Homo sapiens: one gene and its partner. The protein of the gene in region 1 interacts with the protein of each later gene in a pairwise test. Each region holds a gene or a part of one and is shown in the gene's direction. Other genes may lie near its edges.

Region 1 (3,529 bases):
TCAACAAGGAAGCATTAATAAACTATGTAAACTTTGGTGGCTAGAGGTTTCAAGGTATAAGGAAGAATATTTACTGTAGTAAAAATAAAAATCGGCTGTTTAAAATGGCCAATTTCTAATTTTTATCTCATAACTAATTTGTTGTGTTGTATTCTCTTTTTTTATTTGAAGTATAGCAGAAAACAGACATTTTTGCAATGCCAAAGAAACTAAAGTCTATTTCCAAGAAACCTGGATTAATGAAAACTGTAAAGAATCTCAGAATGAAAGTGTTGGCTACAATGGTAATTTTGTAGAATGCAGACCAAATATTGAGCAGTGTACTAACAAAGCTACCTTGTTGATTATTGGAGATTCATTTTCTTCATCAAAATGCCCAATAAAGTGTTGGTCTGGGAATCTTAAATTCCATTCTCAGCAGATTTTATTTAGATAGAGGTAACTTGCTCAAGTGGAAAGTTGAGATAGTTACCCTTAAATTACAGGGGTTAATTTCACCAAACAGTTATGTAGTATCTACCAAAGCTATATTGGAGGATATAAAGATGACAAGATAGGTTTTTGCTTTCCAGAAGAGAGTATAGATAATTGTACTAGAAGATAATTATAAGAGACTACAAATAACATTTTAAAAATTATTTGCTATATATCAGACATTGTACTTAGTGTCCTATACACCTTATTTGATCTTCACAACAATCCAATAAGGTAGGTGTTATTTCCATGTTGTGGATCAGGAAACAAGTTCAAGAATGTTAAGGAAATTGCTCATGGTTACATTGTGTGTCTGAGTTTGAACCCAGGTCTGTATGTTTCCCACTACACTATTCTTTTTTTTTTTTCTGGAGACGGAGTCTCGCACTGTCACCCAGGCTAGAGTGCAGTGGTGTGATCTCTGCTCACTGCAATCTCCACCTCCCAGGTTCAAGCGATTCTCCTGCCTCAGCCTCCCAAGTAGCTGGGATTACAGGCACCTGCCACCACACCCGGCTAATTTTTTGTATTTTTAGTAGAGACGGGGTTTCATTATGTTGGCCAGGCTGGTCTTGAACTCCTGACCTCGTGATTCGCTTGCCTCGGCCTCCCAAAGTGCTGGGATTACAGGTGTGAGCCACCATGCCCGGCGCCACTACACCATTATTTAAATTGCCACAGTTCTGGGGAACTATAAATGTTTTGCATCTAATGTTATAGTTGTATGAACTTTCTACAAATTGGCCAAAAACGTAATTAACCAACATTAACTTTACACTACTTGTTAGCTCCGTCTGTAACAAGGAAAAATGATTTCTACATTCCACTTGGTAGTCTATAATTTAGCAGTGTTTTATTATTGTAGATACAGTCTAATATTTCACAAAGAATAATAGTACAAATAATCTTTTTACAGGGTTTCTTCATTAAGAATTACTGTTTCTAATGAAAGGTGTCACATGCTTGCCCAAAACTTCCCAAAAGATTTAACATTACTCTGTAGACTGTGCTTTGCTTTAAAATTTTATACTCACATGTAACCTAGCTCTGTGTTTGACACTTAGTAGGTGCGCAATACATTGATGAGAATGCTCCATTTGTCACGTAGGAGGAGGGATGTCTAGGTTATTTTAAGAGAAGTTCATTATAATCTTTGACATATGAAATTACGTAGTTTTCTTTAATTTACATTTCTAATCCCTTCTCCCAAAAATATTCTCTTTAAAAGTACAAAAGGGATTTCTATAGTAGTTACATCATTCTTCCATATAGCACACTGGTAGTTTACTCATTTAATGGAAAATGAGAAGACGGCATCTAATTTTGCAGTGACACTGGAAAGTGGAAGGTCTGAGTTGGGAGGATTAAAATTTTAGGGTGGTTTGGGGGTTGGTGGTATGAGAAGGTAAACAGGGTAGTTAAGACAGACTTTACATTGTTTTCAAATTAGAAATGTAATGCACATGTATTACAGAAAATCCAGAAAATGTGGAAAAGCACAAAAGAAAATAAAAGTTGCTCATAGTTCTGTCACTTAGAGACTGACAGACTTTTTCCACCTAAAAGTCCCATGGCTGTAGAGTCCATTTTTTCTTTTTTTTCTTTATCTCATTTTACTTACTAGAATTTTGAAGAAAAATGAAGCTCAGAGAATTTTAAGATAGAAATCACAGTAGGTTAAAAACTTTTTTCTTGCCACTGGTTCTAGATGAGTGGATCTAATTAGCTTTTATTGCCTTTTTTAATCTCAAAATATTTCAATTATGAGTCACGGCTTTATTAAGAAGAAAAGTGCAGGCTGGGCATAGTGGCTCACACCTGTAATTCCAGTGCTTTGGGAGGCTGAGACAGGCGGATCACCTGAGGTCAGGAGTTCGAGACTAGCCTGGCCAACTTGGTGAAACCCTGTCTCTACTAAAAATACAAAAATTAGCCAGGTGTGGTGATGTGTGCCTGTAATCCCAACTACTTGGGAGGCTGAGGCACAAGAATTGCTTGAACTCAGGAGGCGGAGGTTGCAGTGAGCTGAGATCACGCAACTGCACTCCAGCCTTGGTGACAGAGTGAGAACCTGTCTCAAAGAAAAGTGCAGTAGTATGGATTTAGTAATAGACAGTAATGAAGTATAGCAACAATTTCTTTGAATAATATAGCAATACAGTGTGTTTTTCCGGCTTAGGTTTGATTGTTGCTGCTCTTATAGACTACCACAATGTTTGTAATTTGCAGCGCATACTTTGCTGAATTAAACATACTAAATAACTTTCCAAATATTTCTTGACTACCAAGATAAAAGTCTGTGTTAAAACTAGTGTTACTAAATGATGGCTCTAAAATGGATTTTTTTGTCATCTCTCATTAGTGTAATAGAGATTAGGTCTAGTATCATGCAATTCCTACCATTCACATAGTGTTGAAATAGGGACAAGTAGGGGCACCTTTTAGACATCATCTCTTTATCCCAGAGCTTAGCATCTGATTCCTTGGGCTCTCTTATTTCTGCTTTTTGAATTTGGCAATGGTAAATTTTCATGCCATTCATCAGAAGCATGTTTACTTTTAAACAAATAAAGTAGTAGTTTGTAAACATCACCTAAAATAATGTTACTTTCATACCATAAATGGTATTTGAATAAAACAGTTAATTCTACATTATTCCCTCATAAAATATACTGTGCTGATAATTGTCAAATGTCTATATTATTTCAAAAGCCAATTTTACTCTACAGTATATGACATTTAATATGATCAACTTTTGATATACAGCAGAGTTCAAACTTGACAGCAAAGTTGAAAACTAGTTAAAAGCTTTAAAAAGATTTAAAATTTAGAGTGGGAAAAATATACTAATGAAAAAGTAATTCCTTAATGAAACAGAAATAGAGAATCTTTATCTTGATGCATGTCTAGCTTGTCTTAATTTTATCTGATGAAATCTTGTTTGAAACTAGCTCTATTATCATACTTGGTTTTTTTTTGCAATCACAAAAATGAAATTTGTGTAACATTATATACATAAATATTGCCTGTAAAAAATGAAGATCAAGAAAGCATG
Region 2 (3,529 bases), on another chromosome or scaffold:
CTGTCTGAGTAGAAAGTGGAGTCATAGGACTTAGATCACCTGACCCCTGCAGCACCACAGAGGACCTGGGCAACCTTGTCTTCCTAGGCCTTGATTTCCCCACCTAAGGGATGGGTATAAAAGCACTGAATTTAAATGCCCAAGAGATTGGCAGTGTAAGCCGTAATAGTTATTAGCTAATTTAGCAGCTGTGTAAGTCTTCTTTGACCCTGAAATAACTCTCAGAGACCCAGAGACAAAACTCTTGGGTTATTGGTTTATTATGTAAATATGATTTACTGTCATACTTCTAAATGAAGGAGCTGAGTTCTTCAAAGTGGGTCTGCTCCCAGAATTATGAGTGTTGAGCAGTATATAATTCCATTAATTTTGGTACATAAGCTAGAGAGTCATCAGAACCTTTTTCCCACTTGTCTGAAATCTGGGGCCCTCAGGGGTCTGGCATGCCCTGCTGCTGTGGTACACGTGGCACAGAGGCAGAGCCTGGGCCTGCTGCTCCACTGGCTTCTGCAGATCATCCTCCAGGCCTGAGGAGCACCTGTGTACAAGCAGATCCTAGAGAGACCCTCAGAGACAGAATGCATATCTTCTGCTCATGCTGCAGAAAAGGCATGGGGCCTTGTGTGGAATCAGCATTCCTAGTACCTTCTTGCTTGGGCCTGGGCTCCTTGAGCCTGCTCAGCTGTGTTGCTGCCCACACAGAATCTTCTGCAGCTCCAGGGTCCCCTGTGCTGAGAGGCTGTGCCCTCTTGTCACAGAAGCAGGATGCTGTGGCAGTGAGCCTGTGGGCTTTCCTTCCCAGGTCTGGGCTCCCATTCTGACCCCTTTCTCCTCCCTCTGCCCACAGGTGAGGCTTTCCCCGTCTCGGAGCACCACCAGCACTCAGACCTCACTGCTCCCCCTAACAGCCCCACCGGCCACCACCCGCAGCCAGCATCTCTAATCCCGTCTCACCCCAGCTCCTTTGGCTCCCCACCCCACCCACACCTGCTGCCCACCACCCCGGCAGCACCTTTCCCTGCCCAGGCTTCAGAGTGCCCTGTTGCTGCTGCCACTGCCCCCCACACTCCAGGGCCATGTCAGAGCTCCCATCTACCCTCCACCAGCATGCCGCTCCTGAAGATGCCCCCACCATTCTCGGGGTGCAGCCACCCCTGCAGCGGGCACTGTGGTGGGCACTGCAGTGGGCCTCTCCTCCCACCCCCGAGCTCTCAGCCACTCCCTAGCACTCACAGGTAAGTGTGCTGCATGAAGGGCAAACTCGCTACCCACTTGAACTTAGAATTTTGGAAAATTTGGGGTTAACTTTGAGGTGGCAATTAAAAAGTAGACTATGTCTTTCCTTTCATTATTTTTCAATTGTAAAGAAGTATGTGTTTTGGCCTGGCACAGTGGCTCACACCTATACTCCTAGCGCTTTGGGAGTCCTAGGCAGGAAGATCACTTGAGCCTAGGAGTTTGAGACCAGCCTGGGCAACATGGCAAGACCCCCCTCTCTACAAAAAATTTTGAAAATTAGCCAGGCATGGTGGCATGCAACTGTAGTCCTAGCTACTCAGGAGGCTGAGGCAGGAGGATTGCCTGAACCCAGGAGTTTAGGGTTGCTGTGAGCATTGATCATGCCACTGCACTCCAGCCTGGGTGACAGAGCTTTAAAAAAAAAAAAAAAAATAGTATGTGGGGTTTTTTTGTTTTGTGTTTTGTTTTGTTTTAACTTGGAACAATTCAGAAATGTATAAGGAAAAAAATGTCTTCACAACCTAAACTTCTACCACTGTGGTATATTTTCACCATGTTTCTGTATATAAATAACATACTTAGATATTTGATATACCTTTCGTGTAGTAGTAATTTTTTAACATTATGTCATGATCATTTCCCCAGTTAAAATTCTTCAAGAAACTTTTCAATAGTCATATAATGTCTTACTGTATAGCTCAAGCATACTTTATCATTCCCCTATTCCTGGATATCTAGGCATTTCCAGTTGTTTAACCATAATGAATGAGACTGTAATAAGCATCCCTGCACCTAAATCTGTTTGAATGAGAAATCATGTCCTTCAGGGAGATTCCTAGAAGTAACTCTTAAGTACTAAGAAAGGTTATACTAACATATATTTGAAAGAGAATTCTTTGGAGAAGATAGAGGTATATTTTTATGTTAGAAATCAGATCTGTGTTTATCATGCATTTCTATCTTCCTATTGGAAAGTCTCCTGTGTCTGGCACATGCCGGGTTGACAGTGTCTGCAGTCTGCCACCCGCCGGTTTTCACTTAGCGTTGCCTCCTCAGCATATTTGTGTTCTCTTGTGGTGTTCTTAGCCTCTAGCTTCAAAGGCTGGAGAACATCGACCGCAATTCATGTTACTGTTCTCTAGTTGCTGAGCATTTGGGTTATTCGGACATTTTAACATTACCAACAGTGTCTCTAAAGATGTCTTTTCTTAAAGCCTTTTTCCTCTTTTGGATTTTTCTTGTTGGAATCAAGTTCTCAGAATGAAAAAAGTTACTAGTTAAAGGCTGTTTAGGTGTTTTTTGTTCTCTTTGAGGGTTCTTAATACACATTGAAAAACTGCTATCCAAAGGGGTCTCCAAACTGATGTAACCACCAATGAGTGCTGGTTTCCCATATTCACAAGCACACTATTTTAATTTTTCTAAAATCAATTTTGTGGCCTGGTGCCCAGCTCATGCCTATAATCCCAGCCCTTTGGGAGGCCGAGGCAGAAAGATTGCTTGAGCCCAGGAGTTGGAGACTAGCAAGGGCAACATAATGAGACTCTGTCTCTACAAAAAATTTAAAAACTAGTGGGGCATAATGTGCATGCCTCTAGTTCCAGCTACTTAGGTTGCGGGGGCTGAAGTGGGACAGGATCGCTTGAGCCTGGGAGATACAGGCTGCAGTGAGCTGACATCGTGCCACTGAACTCTAGCCTAGGCAACAAAGTGAGAGCCAGTCTCAAAATAGAAAATAAAATCAATTTTGCTGGCCAGGCGCGGTGGCTCATTCCTGTAATCCCAGCACTTTGGGAGGCTGAGGTGAGCAGATCACGAGGTCAAGAATTCCAGACCAGCCTGGCCAGCATGGTGAAACCTCATCTCTATTAAAAATACAAAAAAAAAAAATTAGCTGGGCATGGTGGCGTGTGTCTGTAGTCCCAGCTACTCAGGAGGCTGAGGCAGGAGAATCGCATGAACCTGGGAGGCGGAGGTTGCAGTGAGCCGAGGTCGCAACACTGCACTCCATCCAGCTTGGGCAACAGAGCGAGACTCCGTCTCCAAAAAAAAAAAAAAAAAATCAGTTTTGCTAATGCAATAGATAATGAATGGTTGGTTTAGAACAAACTTCTGTAAGCACCACTGATAATGATTCCTGCCACCATCTTTTTTAATCCACGTCACATGCTTAGCATCCTTTCTAGCAGCAGAGAGGGCTGCTTTGGACTGCCCTGGAAGCTGGGCCTCCACACAGCTCCTTGAGCTCCGTCCTTGCTCTCAGTTCCCCTGCCACCTCAGCCTCAGCCCA

The links. Proteins that work in one complex are often made in the same cells at the same time.
Region 2: the proteins of PKN2 (region 1) and FAM193B interact in a two-hybrid assay, tested with the Homo sapiens proteins (one large-scale study listed by BioGRID and IntAct).

What each region holds. Positions count from the first base shown.
Region 1 is NC_000001.11:88,687,259-88,690,787, forward strand, and holds part of PKN2 (serine/threonine-protein kinase N2), read left to right. Parts: intron 1-3,529. UniProt on the Homo sapiens protein: PKC-related serine/threonine-protein kinase and Rho/Rac effector protein that participates in specific signal transduction responses in the cell.
Region 2 is NC_000005.10:177,534,064-177,537,592, reverse strand, and holds part of FAM193B (protein FAM193B), read left to right. Parts: intron 1-847; coding exon 848-1,235; intron 1,236-3,529.